5 linked regions of the Homo sapiens genome follow. The protein of the gene in region 5 interacts with the protein of the main gene of each other region in a pairwise test. Each region holds a gene or a part of one and is shown on either strand. Other genes may lie near its edges. The genes, in order: LHX4, EFEMP1, FLACC1, MGAT5B and TXNDC5.

The links.
Region 1: the proteins of TXNDC5 (region 5) and LHX4 interact in a two-hybrid assay, tested with the Homo sapiens proteins (one large-scale study listed by BioGRID).
Region 2: the proteins of TXNDC5 (region 5) and EFEMP1 interact in a two-hybrid assay, tested with the Homo sapiens proteins (one large-scale study listed by BioGRID).
Region 3: the proteins of TXNDC5 (region 5) and FLACC1 interact in a two-hybrid assay, tested with the Homo sapiens proteins (one large-scale study listed by BioGRID).
Region 4: the proteins of TXNDC5 (region 5) and MGAT5B interact in a two-hybrid assay, tested with the Homo sapiens proteins (one large-scale study listed by BioGRID).

Annotation. Positions count from the first base shown.
Region 1 is NC_000001.11:180,236,754-180,240,273, forward strand, and holds part of LHX4 (LIM/homeobox protein Lhx4), read left to right. Parts: intron 1-3,520. UniProt on the Homo sapiens protein: May play a critical role in the development of respiratory control mechanisms and in the normal growth and maturation of the lung. Binds preferentially to methylated DNA.
Region 2 is NC_000002.12:55,868,609-55,871,786, reverse strand, and holds part of EFEMP1 (EGF-containing fibulin-like extracellular matrix protein 1 precursor), read left to right. Parts: intron 1-663; coding exon 664-787; intron 788-871; coding exon 872-1,067; intron 1,068-3,178. UniProt on the Homo sapiens protein: Binds EGFR, the EGF receptor, inducing EGFR autophosphorylation and the activation of downstream signaling pathways. May play a role in cell adhesion and migration. May function as a negative regulator of chondrocyte differentiation.
Region 3 is NC_000002.12:201,308,834-201,312,353, reverse strand, and holds part of FLACC1 (flagellum-associated coiled-coil domain-containing protein 1), read left to right. Parts: intron 1-3,103; coding exon 3,104-3,203; intron 3,204-3,520.
Region 4 is NC_000017.11:76,874,888-76,878,407, reverse strand, and holds part of MGAT5B (alpha-1,6-mannosylglycoprotein 6-beta-N-acetylglucosaminyltransferase B), read right to left. Parts: intron 1-3,520. UniProt on the Homo sapiens protein: Glycosyltransferase that acts on alpha-linked mannose of N-glycans and O-mannosyl glycans.
Region 5 is NC_000006.12:7,893,787-7,897,306, reverse strand, and holds part of TXNDC5 (thioredoxin domain-containing protein 5 isoform 1 precursor), read left to right. Parts: intron 1-2,104; coding exon 2,105-2,201; intron 2,202-3,520. UniProt on the Homo sapiens protein: Protein disulfide isomerase of the endoplasmic reticulum lumen involved in the formation of disulfide bonds in proteins. Can reduce insulin disulfide bonds.

The sequences.
Region 1 (3,520 bases), on a different chromosome or scaffold from region 5:
TGAGGAGCTTTGGGACGCATAGGGACTTGGAACCAGTTTAGCTGAAGAGAGGACAAAAGGAGTAATATTACCCACTTTGAGAAACCCACGGTTGGAGACAGACTGAAGCAGCAGTTTGCTGTGGCAGCACCAAATACATGGCTGCATAGACGGCTGAATTTGGAGAGGGCTGGCTGGGGTGCCGTTGAGGCGATTTTACTTTTGTAACAATGTTTTGCCTTTCTCCCTTCCTGGAATGAGTGTTAACAATGCCCATAACAGAGATGTGGGCAAATAGGGTCCACTGCTTTTAGTAAAATTCCATCGCGGTCTGGTGGCTTGAATTTCTCTTTCTTCCTCCCTCCTTCTCCTTCCCCTGTTCCCCCAATTTCTTCTGTCTATCCCTTCCTTCCTTTGCAAAATCTTTGCAGGGAGAAACATGGGATAGTGCAGGAATTCACGACACAGGGGTTTTACTCGGCGGGGGGGGCGGGGAGGAGGGCGGTCGTGTGTCCAGCAGGCTGCACCGTGGTGGAGCCATCTCTCTTTCTAGGCGCCCTGGGAGGGAAGCACAGGTGCTGGGTATAGGACAGAAGCCGCCCTGGAGCTGGGCTCTTATTGTCTGTGGTAGGAAGAAATCAACTAAAATTAGATGCCACTGTGAGGTTTTACCTTATTTAGTCCTCAATTTTATAGGATCCCTGATCAAAATGGAGCACAAGTCAACCATTTTGAGGCATTGCTTTTGGGGGTAGGTGGACAGGTTGGGTTTAATTGGTGAAAATGAAATGGATTCTCCCTTGGAAAATGGACTTTGGGGTTAACTGTATGAGCGGCTGACTGGAAAGTCGTCTTGGGAGGTGAGTCCTACCTCCTGCTGTAATTTTGGTGGATTTCTTTTCTCAGATCTCCCCACCCTGTTCCCTCTGTCAGTCTGGGTCTAGCCACAGATGTTTAACTGCAGTACCTCACCCCCACATGTCTTTAAAGTATAATTTGCTTTAATTATGATGTTAGGGGGTTAAGAGATTGGTTCTGGGAATAGCTTAATAGAGACAAAACTTGCAGCCAAATTAATTGAAAGTTTCTTGCTATGAGGGAAAGATTGCCAAACATATGGAATACTGTTACAGAGTGAGACATTAGAAAAATACATTGTAGAGATTTAGCAATGATTAAATGTGAAAATGGAGTGGAAATAGACGTGTCTACAACATTTCCATACACAAACATGGATTTGCTTAATGTAATTTTCTGTTTTATTTGCAATTACTGAGATATATGATATCCTACTGAAGAATACTAATTACGTGACAATATATCACCTAGGAGATAATCCCTGCAAATACATATTTACATTGTGTATTTCATTTGTTACTCGACTCCTTATGTTAAAATATCCAAATTACAGCCTTAAAATGATAACATCGAAATTATCTCCAGTTTACTTTTGAATTTGTTCTTTTATTGAAGAGGTTTCTATTTTTGACTAAGCCGAAAAAGAACAAAGGAGATTTTCAAAGGCACCCCAAGCCACCAAATAAAGCAAACAGTAAAAGTGGGAAGGATTCCGGAAAGCAAGTGAAGGGAAAGGACAGCTTCAGGTGTGATCATTTCTGATGTAAGAAGGATTTTCTGACTTTTTTTCTGGTTGCTAGTCATTTGTCAAGACAAACTAGAAAAAACTAGAAATTAGATAAAAAGACGTGAGTACACTGATGCATTTTAAAACATGTCAGTGCATATGATGATAGAGAATATGATTTACCTTCAATGCGATGCTAATTTTTAAAATTAGAATTTTTCTAATATTTTTGTGGCTGGCCCAGCTCTCTTTCTTTAATGCTGCTGTCATCATTGATGTTCAATGTGCCTTTTCTCTTTATGTTTTAAAGAATTAATGTTGGAATTTTGTGCTTTAGCTGTGTTATGTGATTATTACTAGGTTGTGAAAATCCCTTAAGAGGAATTTTATAAAAACATTTTGGAAAATTCTGTTATTGTCTCTTCAAGATACGCTGATTTAGAATAAGTGAAAATATAAAAACGAGAACTATAAACGGTTCAACAAAAATGAATGTTCTTTAATGACAAAGAGCCAGGGTTGGGGGGCGGCACACACCAGATTTGTCATGGAAAACTGAGTCGTGGGCCTCAGGTTTTCCCTGCGTGGGGACTGCATGGATGAATCAGGCCTTCTTCCTTTGGTCACAATTACCAGGTGATTTAAAAGGGGAATTGTGACCAGAAAACAGGATTTTATCATCAGCGGTGATGGTGGCTACTTTGAAATGGAAAGTTTTATTTTTGAAATATTTATCCAGTAATAGACCTCTTAGTTAATTTAATTTTAATGTAACTATACCTCCGTTATAAATCTTTGACCTGGACATTTCAGAACTCAGGTATGTGTTTAGGCAGGTGTGCCACAGCTTGGTATATCCTGTAGCTTCACCTTGTTGATGCATTTTAGAATTAGTTATTCCCCGACTAAATCAATGAGCCCCCCACTGACAGTATTTCCCAAGCCTGCCTTTAGAAAACCATCTTCCTTCTTTCTTACTCAGGGAACCTGAGGCAACAGAACAGCAATGTCTGCAATTTGTTGTTTTCTCTTCCTTACATGTGGGAAAGGAATGGAAAATTTCAAGAAAAACATTTGCATACTATTTCAGTTGCATATGTGATTCCTTAAAGCCCCATTTGGCGTCTCCTTTCAGTTAGTAGTCAGTAAAGAAACTTAACAAATAAATAAAATTAAACGTTTTTGGAAATACATATTGGCCAAATGTTATTTGAGACAGAGCTCAAAAAACTGCTTACTTCTGGAGGGAAATCACCAGCAAAAAGGTTTTGGGCAAAAATCCCAGATGGAGGTGGCTTTGATTGAGCACAGGTGGAAGCCATCAGACCCAGAGTAAAAGAAGGTTTAGTCCTAATTCGGCCTCAAACTGTGTACCCGTAGGGAAGCCCCTTATTCTCAGAACCTTTTAAACGTAGACAATGAATGTCCGCTTCACAGGGTGTCTGGGAGGAGGGAATGAGCTTGCCAATTTGAAAGTACTTGACCAAGTTTGGAGTGCTGGTGGTCTTAAGGCACTCAGAGACTGGGATCACAGCTCCCATTTCACAGACACAGCCGCCCCTGGGAGCACTGCTGGCTGTCCCAAGAGGATGGCCACCTGAGGGGGAATACTGTGGGGTCTGCAAACAGGGAGACCCGGAAGTGGCTCCCATGGACCCAGCTCCTTTTCTCGAAAGGAGCAAGAAAAACCTTGTCCTGAGCATTAGGCTGTCAAGTCAAAGCATGAAACAAAAAGAACACTTCATCCAGAAGGCAGTTAAAAAGCAAAGGGAGTTAAAAAGCAAAAGCCTCACAGGAGGCACATCAAGCTGGCACATCAAAGTACAAACTTTACAAAATATTAATCTGGTCTCAGAGCATCGTTAAATAAACATTATTCCCTTTTAAAATTATTATAATAGAGGTAGGGGCTCACTATGTTGCCCAGACTGGTCTCGAACTTCTGGGTTCAAGTAA
Region 2 (3,178 bases), on a different chromosome or scaffold from region 5:
GACAGTATAATCCACTCCCAGCATGCTTCAGCTTACTGAAACCAGATTTCTAGCCTTTACCTTTCTCCCAAGTTCCTGAAAGAGATGATAAGCTGCCCTCCATAGTTTATGCTTCCTGATTTCTCAGCTTGGAAAGCCTTCCCTGCCCCAGCCATGAAAACTCCATCTAACCACCACCCTTCAAGGCCACGTTGAGATGCCTCTTCCTTCCTTCAGCCTTCCCTAATCCCCCTGGCAAAATTACCCAACTCTGCTCCACATGCCCCAGTATACTTATCTATCTCTTACTTAATTCCATTTTACTTTCTAAGTAATCATATACACATTCCCTCAATTATAATGTCCCTGATGACAAGAACTGGTGTTTAACTTTTATATAGGCAGAGTCAGTGGTTAACATTGGGGTTTGAATTCAACAGATGAACAATAGGTGCTTGATAAAATATCATGAAATGACACATATTAATCTGCCTAGAATGTCTCAGCTCTGTCTGTCCTGAATTCAATACAATGAACACCCAGTCTTGTGTCTAAAAGCAGGTTGAACACAGTCCAGATGCTCTCACACCTCCTTCCTTGCAAACAGAATCTGCCAGTTATATGATTTAATTAGATCAGTTCATTAGTTTAGTTAGTAAACTCTTTGACCCTACATCTCTACAGATATAAATGAGTGTGAGACCACAAATGAATGCCGGGAGGATGAAATGTGTTGGAATTATCATGGCGGCTTCCGTTGTTATCCACGAAATCCTTGTCAAGATCCCTACATTCTAACACCAGAGAAGTAAGAAAAATCAGAACTTTTGAAAGTGAGGATTTTCTGGTCTTACCAAGCCAAACTGCTGAATACTTTTGTTTGTCTCTGCAGCCGATGTGTTTGCCCAGTCTCAAATGCCATGTGCCGAGAACTGCCCCAGTCAATAGTCTACAAATACATGAGCATCCGATCTGATAGGTCTGTGCCATCAGACATCTTCCAGATACAGGCCACAACTATTTATGCCAACACCATCAATACTTTTCGGATTAAATCTGGAAATGAAAATGGAGAGTTCTACCTACGAGTAAGTATCCTGAAGGCAGCCTTAACTATTGAGAAAGATGGGAGTTTGTTGTTGTTGTTGTTGTTGTTGTTGTTGTGTGGTATCCACATGTGGAAGGAAAGCAAACATTTAAAGTGTCTTATGTGTAGGCATTGTGTAAGGCCTTCCAGCTACATTATTTCATTTATTCCTCTTGGTAACACTGCCAGATAGATATTAATATTCATCTCCATTTTTTACAGAGGAGAAAAGTGAGATGCAGAAAGATTAAGTAGCATCCCTGAAATCACTCAAATATTAAGTTTGGCAGACTCTGATAGAGTTGTGTGTGACCACGAAAATACAAGCCTCCCATCCCCCCGCCTCTGCCCCCACCCAACATACCCCCCAAGTAGGTATCACTAATCATTGATGGTTAATTAATTATACATAGACATACATATAATTCAAACCCAAAATAATTCCTGGAGCTCCTAAAGAGTTTTTCAGACATCATGAATTCATCATTGTTACATTCACAAGACAGTTTGTGTTCACACCGAAACTAAAACCTATAAGTATGTGAGAAGTGACCCCACCTCCCCGCACAGTATGTGTCAGTAGTTGTACCATTCTTGCCAACTTCTGGGCTGGCAGTATGGAGTCATCTCCCTATCTTTCATTGCCTGTGTGAAATCTACTTTCTGAATTCTGCCATTTCCCTCTTCACACTGTCTCCTGGGTTATCTTTGCTTCCTCACATCCCTATCTCTCTTCCTATAAACTGGCTCCCGTCACTTCCATGATCCCTTCAGTGGCTTCTGAGCTGGTCTCCCTGACCCCAAAGCCTCAGCCTTCCAGTCTCCCTACAAAATCTCAGCAAGTTCATTTTAGGTTAAAATTTGGACATATTTTAAATACGGCTCACCACTTCATGTGAAAATGATGGCACCCTACCAAGCAGTTTGCAGAGTTACGGTAACTGTTTCATGCTAATGATGTTATTCATCCAGTTACAATTTTCTCAAAACTCCTTTGGGCACTCTTTATTTTTAATCAAATTTTAAAGCCAATATTTCATTTTGAGAATATGAATTAAATTGGGAAATTCATCCTTGTGGTACAGTTTACAGATTTTTAATGTTTACCCATTTATCCTGTTTTTTGATATATTAATTTCCCATATAGCTCCAGAGTTATGTGATATTATTTCTTTGCCAGTATATTAGAAAATGATTAATTTCTCATGACCAACTTCTGAAAAGAAAGACCCAATGCAAAATGCAATCTATTACAATTATTTTTTTGAATAAAAAAGAATATATTATAGTTCTTTAACATTTGATATTTTAAATTTGACATATTCTTGATATTTGTAAGAAATTTCCACTGAATGAATTTTACACAATTCAGATACTACCAATTAACTAATTCTAGCCTAAACAAATAACATTATTTTTAAATAACAAAATCTTTAAAAATAATTTTCTATTTTGAACTTTTAGCCATAATGTAAGAAAATAAAATTTTCTAGCAGAATAATCAAAGAGTGAAACAAAGTTCCAACATGTTTTTTCTTTGCAATTAAACATGGCACTTTTACAGTTATTTATTATTCATATCAGTGCACTTACCGACTTCATATTTTCAAATCAAAATACAGTGTTTTTCTCCAGTGAAATCCTTATTCTCATGACTGATAGAAAACATTGCCAATTTTGATATTTCCAGAGTTAATGTTAAATTATTTGAAAGAAAATTATTTAAAATAATAAAAATAGACATTTCAAGACTATTTCTTATCACATAATTCAAAAAGTACTTGGATCAAATCCTACAGAGTTTCTCCACTAAAATTCTACTTGTGCAGAGGGCATTGAAACGCATGAAAATCAACAGCAGGTTAGTTAGGTTAATTAATTCGGTTAATTAAGCACCTACTACATGCTCAGCTCTATGCTAGGTGTCATGAGGAATTAAAAGGACATGTAATGCACATTTTCTGATTTCAAGGAGCTTTAAATATTATTGTGTAGAAAAAGTTAACATCTATGAAAATAGAAGTGGGGCAATTTTGTGCTTAATTCCATGGTCCAGATACATCAAAAAATCAATGTGGGCTGTCAAAGAAGGTTTCTTGATAGTCATGAGTC
Region 3 (3,520 bases), on a different chromosome or scaffold from region 5:
GGATTTTATTCTTTTTGTGTCTATAGTGAATGGGATTACGTTATTGATTTGGCTCTCACCTTGGACATTATTGGTGTATAGAAATGCTACTTATTTTTTGTACATTGATTTTGTATCCTGAAACTTTACTGAACTTGTTTATCAGTTCCAGGAGCCTTTTGGCAGATTCTTTAAAGTTTTCTAGGTATGCAATTATGTTATCAGTGAACAGAAAAATTTGACTTCTTCTTTTCCTATTTGGATGCCTTTTATTTCTTTCTCTTGCCTAATGGCTCTGGCTAGTACTTCCAGTGCTATGTTGAATAAGAGAGGTGAGAGTGGGCATCCTTGTCTTGTGCTAGTTCTCAAGGGTAATGCTTCCAGCTTTTGCCCATTCAGTAGGATTTTGGCTGTGGGTTTGTCATAGATGGCTCTTATTATTTTGAAGTAAGTTCCTTTGATAACCTAATTTGCTGAGAGTTTTTATCATGAAGGGATGTTGGATTTTATCAAAGGCTTTTTCCATGTCTATTGAGATGATCATATGGGTTTTCTTTCTAATTCTGTTTATGTGGTGAATCACATTTATGGATTCACGTATGTTGAACCAACCTTGCATTGTGAGAATGAAGCCTACTTGATCATGGTGAATTAACTTTTTTTTTTTTTTTTTTGAGTCAGTGTCTCATTCTGTCACCTGGGCTGGAGTGCAGCAGCACAATCACAGCTCATTGAAGCCTCAACCTCCTGGGCTGGAGTGATCCTCACACCTCAGCCTCCTAAATAGCTGGGACCACTACACCTAGCTAATTTTTTATTTTTTCTGTAGATGTGGGGTCTCATATCATGTTGCTTAAACTCCTGGGCTCAAGCAATTCTCCTGACTCAACCTCCCATAGTGCTGGGATAACAGGTATGAGCCACCGTGCCTGGCCATGAATTAACTTTTTCATGTGTAGCTGGATTCAATTTGCAAGTATTTTGTTGAGCATTTTTTTCAGTCTATGTTCATAGGGATATTGGCCTGTAGTTTCTTTTTTGTCTTTGCCAGGTTTTGGTATAAGGATAATGCCAGCTTCATAGAATAAGTTAGGGAGGAGTCCCTCCTCCTCATTTTTTTGGAATAGTTTCAGTAGAATTGGTACCAGTTCTTCTCTGTACTTTTGGTAGAATTTGGCTGTGAATCTTTCTGGTCCCAGGATTTTTTTTTTTTTTTAGTGTTAGATTATTTTATTACTGAATCAATTTCAAAACTCAATATTGTCTATTTGGGGTTTCAATTGCTTCTTGATTCAATCTTTGGAGGTTGTGTTTCCAGGAATTTATCCATTTCCTCTAGATTTTCTTGTTTGTATGCATACAGATGTTCATAATGATCTCTGAGGTTCTTTTATATTTCTGTGGGATTAGTTGTAATGTCACCTTTGTCCTTTCTAAATGTGCTTATTTGGATCGTCGTTTTTTTCTTTGCTAATGTAGCTAGCACTCTATCGGTCTTGCATTTCCTTTCAAAGATCCAACTTTTTGTTTCATTGATTCTTTGTATGGGTTTTTGAATTTTGATTCCATTCAGTTCTGTTCTGATTTTAGTTATTTCTTTTCTTCTCCTAGCTTTGGGGTTAGTTCTTGTTTTGGAATGAACATTTTTAAGGCCTTTAATATATATGGCCAAATTGCCATCCAAAAAGAATGTATCACTCTGCACTGCCACAAGCAAAGCATGGAGTGCTCCCGTCATCTCAGAATAAAACCCATCCATTTAATCAGCTCATTTGATGAAGGCCCAGGAAAACAAAGTTAGGGCATGATTCTTACTAGGTAGATGAAGAGAGTTAAGAGATGGCTAGTGGGGCGGGAAAGGACTGAAGCCTCAAGCCTTCATCCTGTTTAATTGTGAAGTATAGTGACCAACTAGTTCTAGTTGGCCTGAGACTTTCCAGGTTTTAGCACTGAGAGTCCAGAGTCCCAGGAAACCCCTAAGTGTCAGGCAGACAAGGACACTTGGTCGCTCTATCAAAAGTTAAACACCAGTACCACCTCTAAAGTTCTATTTACCACTTACAATTTCAGTTTTGAGCCTGTGTCTAAAACTCATTTTTTTAAGATACTCCTTGGTATATTCAGGGAAAACATCATAGAACAGAGCCTAAGACGTGTGAGTGGTAAATAGAATAGGTCGGGTGTGAATCCTTCTGCTAACCTGAAAAATAAGGCAGTCAGCGTCCTTGGACCCTACTAGTGTCATCCAGGTCCAGGGCCTTCCCCCTCCTAGGATTCCATGTTCATGAAATCTGAGCCAAGCAACAGTATTGGTATTAGATTAGGCTTATTTAACCTCAACCACAAAAGAAAGTTAGATTTGCTGAGAAAAAGTGGACATTCTCTGAAAAACATCCCCTTATTTTCTAAGTGTTCAAATTAACTACTAGGTATTTCCTTTCTTCTTCTTTTTTTTTTTTTTTTTTTTTTGAGACAGAGTCTCACTCTGTCACCAGGCTGGAGTGCAGTGGCGTGATCTCGGCTCACTGCAACCTCTGCCTTCTAGGTTCAAGCGAGTCTCCTGCCTCAGCCTCCCAAGTAGCTGGGACTACAGGTGTGTGCCACCACGCCCAGCTAATTTTTGTATTTTTAGTAGAGATGGGGTTTCACCATGTTGGCCAGGATGGTCTTGACCTCTTGACCTTGTGATCTGCCTGCCTCCACCTCCCAAAGTGCTGGGATTACAGGTGTGAGCCACTGCGCCCGGCCTCCTTTCTTCTTGTGCTATTGAAGAGGGATTTGTGATTTAGGGGGAGCTAACATATGATCCTTCAACATGGAGAACTCTACCTTTCTTCAAAGGAAGCTCAGTTCTAGTGGGGCAAACACTGTGCATAGTTTGCCCTTGACCTTTGGGTTCCATAAGCTCTCTGTTGGGCTGGGCTGGAATTTACTTCTCACCAGTCACCCATGGAGGACCCACTCAGTGAGGGCCCCAGGTAAGGGAAGATGCACAGAACATGGTGATGGGCCCTGGCCACTGTGCAATGCCAAGAGGAGTCCTCCCTGAGTTGAGTTTTACAGCCTCTCCAGGTCACCTTCATTTTAGGACTCTTTTCTTCATGGTGCCTTTGTACCTCCCCAGGACAGTATTTATGATGAAATGGAAGAGAAGTGGTCAAAACAGAAGGCGAAATGGAAGAAGGATGAGAAGTTCGAGCGAGAAAATATCCTGCTACAGCAAAGTGAGTACAGAAACTCTAGCTTTTTTGATGACAAGTGCATTAAAAAACTGCCATGAAGTTTGGTCTTGACTTGAGGAAGGTGGCCTTGGGCTTACCAAGGGTGATGGGCCACATGCTAGATACCTGAATGGAAGGTGCCCAGAGTTTTCATGAAAGCAAAATGACAACAAGGGTAGGGTCTTTTTTGAAGTTCAGGCATCTGATCTAAGAGAGTCTAAGCCTGTACCTTCTGAAACTCATTTGGTCCAAGTTTGCCCATGATGGCTGGAACAAATGTTAGAATCCCTGTAGGGAGTGCAGACTTATTATCTAGAAAC
Region 4 (3,520 bases), on a different chromosome or scaffold from region 5:
GATGCCCCTTCTGTAGTTCTTCAAGCCCCACCCCATCAGACTGGACCAAGTCCCCCCGTGCCAGGGGCTCAGGAGCTGCTCCCATCTTCTGCAGATGGCATGGAACTCCAGAAACCCCTGAGACCTGGGGAGACAGCCCCTACCCCTTCCCAATGAGCCCTCGGGGTACCAGGCACATTTTGTGCTCTGGAAATGCCCAAAGACTAGGCAGGGGGTGGGTACCCAGGAGGGAAGCAGGTCAGGCCGACTCTCCCCCAGTGACCCACTCCCCTAAAAGCCACCACTGGCCCCGGGACTGTCAGCAGAGCAAGCTGACATCGCTTCCCCAGAGTCACTTCACCACTCTTGGCATCAGCTAAATTGAAATATATCTAATGTGAGGCCCCAGTGATACAACTCAGAACAGGCACACGTTCCCTCCATATTTCCATATAAATAAGGAAAGCTGGGACGCTGGGAGATACAAATAGATCCTCTCATTTACAGACGGGATGTGTTTATTACCCACCGAGGCCCCGTCTCCTCCCCAGACGCTCTTCGTCTCTCTCTGTCTCTCTCATCCTCCTTCGTCCCCCTTTTCTTGTCCCCATCCCCACCCTTTACCATTGGAAATTGAATGAGCCCCCATCTCTCCAGAAAGCAGAGACCTCCCTGGCACTGAGAAGGGAACTGTGACTGGGTGTTCGTGCAGCTGGAGAAATGCGCACATTTATCTCTCTGTACTCGCTCACCGCAGAAACCAGCTGAGGCCACGGGAGCTCTGGGCTCCGGGCAGCAGAGAAGACAAGGACAGGCCGTGGGAGGCCACACCAGGCTCTTCCTCAGACCTCCGGGCCCCGGTCCCCCATCCATCAAGCCTGAGAGAAGAGCCCCAGGGCCCCTTAGTACCAAGGGCCAGAGCCAGAGCCAGAGCCATCCACAGAGCCAGGTAGCCTTCCCCAGGTTCAATCCCTGGTGGAGGCCTGGGAGGTCTGGCAGGGCCCAGTAGACACATGCAGCTGTGCCATGGACCTTCAGCCTACAGACCCCTCCCAAAAGATAGCCTCCTACCACTACTTTTTTTTTTTTTTTTTTTTTTAAGCCGAGACAGAGTCTTGCTCTGTCACCCAGGCTGGAGTGCAGTGGCGCAATCTCAGTTCACTGCAACCTCCTCCTCCCTGGTTCAAGCAATTCTCCTGCCTCAGCCTCCCGAGGAGCTGAGATGACAGCACGTGCCACCACACCCTGCTAATTTTTGTATTTTTAGTAGAGATGGGGTTTCACCACGCTGGCCAGGCTGGTCTCGAACTCCTGACCTCAGGTGATCCACCTGCCTCAGCCTCCCAAAGTGTTGGGATTACAGGCGTGAGCCACCACACCCAGCCTCCTACCACTGCTTCTTCAAGACAAGTCAGAGGGCAGGAAACAGCCTCACAGCACTATCTGCAGCCACATGGGGAAGGAGGCCTAGGCGAGAAGGGCTGGAAGGGCAGGAAACAGGAGGAGGACCTGGGGTGGGAAGTGGGGCAGAGCTGCCTGGGAGGGGGCAATGCCGGAAAGCCCTCCCCAGAGCCCAGGCCCAGCCCAAATGCAGCAAGAGGGAAAGAAGTCAGATCTCCTCCGGGTCATGATTCCCCATGCAGCCTCCTCTCTTGAATCTTTAAGATGAGTGTGCAGAATACAGAATGAGATGTCAGTCACATTTCATCCCCAAAGTACGCAGTTTATCATGAAGTATAAACAGGCACAGAGGAGAATTTGGAGGCCCCACACATAGACCACAGTCCACAAGAGGCTGAATGACGCCCTCCTCTTCTTTTCGAGAAAAGCCTTCTCCTCCCTCTCCCTTCGCAGCCACAGTCCATGTGGGACCCCACTTCTGTCACCGGTTTGACAGGGGAGGAGAGATTGTTTTTCCCATTTGTACACAGATTGTTTTGTTGACCAATGCAATTTTTTTTTTTTTTTTCTAAATAGCAGGGCCTTAGAGGGTTTCCTTCTCCTGATTCTGCTCTGGGGTTGTCTAGACTCCGCAGATTTCTTTTGGGTAACAAAACGTGCATTATCCAACAATCCAACCTTGGCCCAGGACTTCCAAGATCCCTCCCCAGGCCTGATTCAGCCAAGCAATTTGCCAAGCACCTCCCCGTGAAGCCCTAATCCTTCCCTCAGGCATCTCCTAAGTGGAAATGCTGGTACCTCCTAGGTTTTCTGCAGGGCTGCCCCAGGCACTGCGTGGGGATGTAGTTTGAGGGGCTTCTCTTGCAGGATCAGGATGTTAAACCCACATTGCACACTGCTTTCCCGGCCTGAGTCCCTGCCTTGGGTCTGCCCAAGCAGATTAGCTTGATCCAAGGGTATGAAAGAAATCATGGAGGACAATGCGAGTCGGGATCTAAAGTGAATCAGGGTCAGCTCTCCTGGGTTCTCAGCGGCCCTTTTCTTGTCTGTCTCCTCCTTCTCCCGGACTTCAGTTCTGTATTCCAGGCACTCAGCTTCTGAGGCCTGGGAAATGTGAAAAGACTGGCTTGGATAAACTTGGTCTGAGAACTAATGTTACAACACGTAGAATCTCCACTCCTAGGTATACCCAACAGAAATGCCTACGTATGTTTACCAAAAGACGTGCACTGAAATATTCATAGCAGCACTGTTCGCAAAAGCCCAAAACTGGAAACGACCAAATGCCCACCAATGGTCGGATGGATAAAAATATGGTGGTGTACTCACACAATGGAAGGCTACACAGCAAAAAAAAAAAAAAAAAAAAAAAAAGTGCAAGTGACTACAACCGCATACAAGATAGTGAGTCTCACACATGTACTACTGAGAGAAAAGACACACACAAAAGACTACTCCTCTATTAGTTCATTCTCAACGTTGCTACTAAAGACATACCTGAGACTGGGTAATTTATAGATGAAAAAGGTTGAATTGACTCAGAGTCCAGCATGGCTGGGGAGGCCTCAGGAAACTTACAATCATGGTGGAAGGGGAAGCAAACATGTCCTTCTTCACATGGCAGCAGGAAGGGGAAGTACCGAGCAAAAGGGAAAAAGCCCCTTATAAAACCATCAGATCTTGTGGGAACTCACTGACCATCACAAGAACAGCACCAAGGTAAACCACCCCCATGAATCAATTACCTCCCACAGGGTCTATCCCACAAGAGGTGGAGATTATGGGAACTACGATTCAAGATGAGATTTGGGTGGGGATACAGCCAAACCATATCAACTCCTGAAACGATTCCATGCTCACAAAGTCCAAAAAACAGGCAGAACTCTTCTATGTGATCAGAAGTCAAGTCGTGACTATCCTTGGGTGAGTAATGACTGTGAAGTGGCATGGGGACACTTGGGGACTGATCACGTTCTGGTCCTTGCTCTGGGTTGTTAGTTGCATGGATTGTTCATTTGTGTATATGATACCCCATTAAAAAGTTTAAGACCACGTACACGCACACACACATGCACACACATGCACATGTACACACGAATGCACACACACCTCTAGTCCAATTGTATGACCTTGGGCAAGT
Region 5 (3,520 bases):
AACTCAAAAGACAATTTGTCACTTTGTACATTCTACTGCAATTTTTGTATTTCCATGTTTGCTTCTGTATTTTTTCTTGAACAGTTATACAAACATGTTTCATCTCATTAATGATTTTATATATTTATGTGGTCTTTATGTTGATCATGTCTTATATTATTTTATCATGTGGATTTGCCATAATTCAACTCTAATTCTGTCAGTGGATATTTAGGTTATTTATACCTTTTCCATCATCAGTAATGATGTAGGGAACAAGTTTATCTTTGTAAAGGACTTTCCACCCCCCCTTCTTTTGAGTGATATTTTTAGAATATAGTATTCCCAGACATAAAATTATAAGGCCAAGAATAAAAAAAAAGATCATTTTTATGGCTCTTGATGAATATAGCCAGGTTTCTTAAGCACCATATCAGCTTATGCTGCCACTGTAGGGCAAGACGTGACCTGTTTCTGGGATGCACTGTGGTGTTCCCATGCCGGGGGACTGCTCTGGAGTCTGCCAGGAACCCAGGAAGCAACTAGAGGCCCCGCATGTGCCATAAATGAACACTTCATACTGAAAGGCCCTTGAACATCTCATGGAGAGTGGCACACGGTATTTTATTTCACCTTATGTGCACCCATTGACTGTTCACTTAGCCATTCTTCCCTTGGGCATTGTTTTGTGTGGGTATTTAGCACTTTGAAAGTCTTGACGCGCTGGCAGCAGAAGGGAAACTTTGTGGTTCTTTATGATTCCAGCCCTGCACAGCTTTGAACTGTCAGCACCTTTAAAGCCTTTAACAACTTAGCTTGGATATTCTTTTTAATAGGAATATGAACCCCCAGATAAAAGCTGAGTAATATACACTTAATGTGTCTGCAGCAGAACACTGATTCCATTATCTTTCCCTCATTTCTGGTTACTTTGGTTGGAAGCCACAGCTGTACCTGGTCTGAAAAGTTGAGAAATGTAGGATTGTGACTAGACAGCTGCACACATTGCTGTCTGCTTGGGTCCTGGCAGAAGCATCTTTTGAAAAGCCCCTTTCCCCCTCTTTCTGTATGAGACTTAGTCATATGAATTACATTCTTTCTTGAAGGTGCAGCTTATGTTCATGCCATGGTTTTCTCTCTGTTGCCTTTCATTCACCTGCATTTTCCTTCTCATCACCTCCTTTTCTCTCTGATCAGTCTTCCACAGTTGTGTCTTCCTCACAGTTTTCCCTGTCATTTGTGTAAAGTAAGGATAACCAGGCCTTCCTGGTCCCTGAGTTTCTCATTCTCAGCTTTGTCCATTTTGCTACCCTCGTGTCTGTTTGTGTGTTTTTTGAGGAAGAGTCTCACTCTGTTGCCCAGGCAGGAGTGCAGTGGCATGTTCTCAGCTCACTGCAGCCTCCACCCCCTGGGATCAAGTGATCCTCCCACCTCAGCCTCCCAAGTAGCTGGGACCACAGGCGCACGTCACCATGCTCAGGTAAATAAAATTTTTTTTTTGTAGCGATGGGGTCTCACTCTGTTGCCTAGGCTGGTCTTGAACTGCTGGGCTCAAGCAGTCCTCTTGCCTCAGCCTCCCAAAATGCTAGGCTGTCACCTAGGCTGGTCTTGAACTGCTGGGCTCAAGCAGTCCTCTTGCCTCAGCCTCCCAAAATGCTAGGGTTACAGGCACGAGCCACTGCGCTGGGCACTCTGGTGTCTGCAAGTGCTGACCCCTTCAGAATACGTCCATTGGGCGTTGTATTTTGTATTCTTTGTGAAGTATCCAAGTACGTTTCAAAGAAGAGGACAGGGTATAGGGTAAGACTGTCCTTTGCATTGTCTGCTTTGTTTGGTTGGGTTTTGGGGTAGGGACAGCTATCACTTGGCTGCCCTGGAGACTCAGACCTAGAGCTTTCACTGAGGGTGAGGCTGACGAGGGGGCTTTTTGCTGAAGCTTCCAGAGGGCTTGACGAGATCAGTTCCTGACCTGGCCTCACTCAGCACAGCAGCATCGTACAAGGGTTCCAGGTTGTTGGGTGAGGGAGGCATCTGCAGGCGGTTCCCCACAGACACAGTCACCTCCTGGATGGTTTCCCTGTGTCTCCACTGACACACCCATGACTGTTTTATTTCCTCCTGTTAGACACCAGAGCCGGAAGTGGAACCGCCCAGTGCCCCCGAGCTCAAGCAAGGGCTGTATGAGCTCTCAGCAAGCAACTTTGAGCTGCACGTTGCACAAGGTAAGGGGGACGTCCTGATGCCAGCTTCAGAGAATCACTATTATTCCTTGGCGTGCTGGGCTTTTCCTTCCTGCTACTCAAGGGCTCTTAGATAGCAGCATCAGTGGCACTGACAAAGGGTCACTCTAGAGGAGCTGTTGGGACCGTTGTTCAGTGCACCTCCTCTAAAACATGAGTTCTCCTTTTGTCTGTGCCCTTATAGAAACGCCGAGTCTAATGCTAAGCACACGTGACCCGCACACTAGCTGGACAGTGCATCCTTGGCTAAGAGTGTTTATTGACAGACTCACCTCGCTTGATTGCTCTTTACTTTATTGCACTTTGGAGATACTGCATTTTTTTACGGATTGAGGATTTTGGCAGCCCAGCATCTGGCAGGTCTAGCGGTTTTTCCAGCAGCTTGTGCTTACTTTGTATCCCTCTGTCAGCATCTTTTTAGCAATAAAATATTTTTTAATTAAGGTACATTGTTTTTAAAGAAGTAATGCTGTAGCACATTTCATAGACTATAGTGTAAACATAACTTTGATATTCACTAGGGAACCAAAAAATTTGTGTGACTTGTTTTATTGTGATATTATCTTTATTGCAGTGGTCTGGAACCAAACCCACAGTATCTCGGAAGTATGCCTGTGTATTAATGATAATCATATGCTTAATGACCTCAGGCAGAAACAAAAGCTTCTCTCTGTCTAAACAGAATTTAGATTGGGCACAGTGGCTCATGCCTATCATCCCAGCACTTGGGGAGAACAAGGTGGGATGACTACTTGAGCCCAGGAGTTCGAGATCAGCCTAAGCAAGACCTTGTCTCTACAGAAGATTAAAAAAAAAAAAAAGGCTGGGTATGGTAAGCGCACTCCTGAAGCTGAGGTGGGAAGATCACTTGAGCCTGGAAGGTCAAGGCTGCAGTGAGCTGTGATCATGCCACTGTACTCCAGCCTGGGTGACAGAGTGAGATCCTGTCTCAGAAAACAACCAAACAAAACCCAGAATTTAATGACACCGTTATAACATGAATCAAATTAGTTACTCTTTACACTTAAAAGATCTTTCTATACCACATCCCATTTTTTGCAAATGGTCTCCTAATATCAGAATGATCCCCATAAAATTTCCAGTGTGAATACATAAGTCTCCCTTTATTCACACATAGATGTGTTTCAGAAAACTTGGCCCAACACCGAATGACTTGAAAGCAATTTTGGCTTCCTGGCCGGCTCCCATTACCAAATGCTACCATGGAGAGAAATCCCCTTAGAAGACTGGGTTGGAAACGTGAGAAATGGCTTGGATTGCCTCTGGCCTTGTGACTTGTG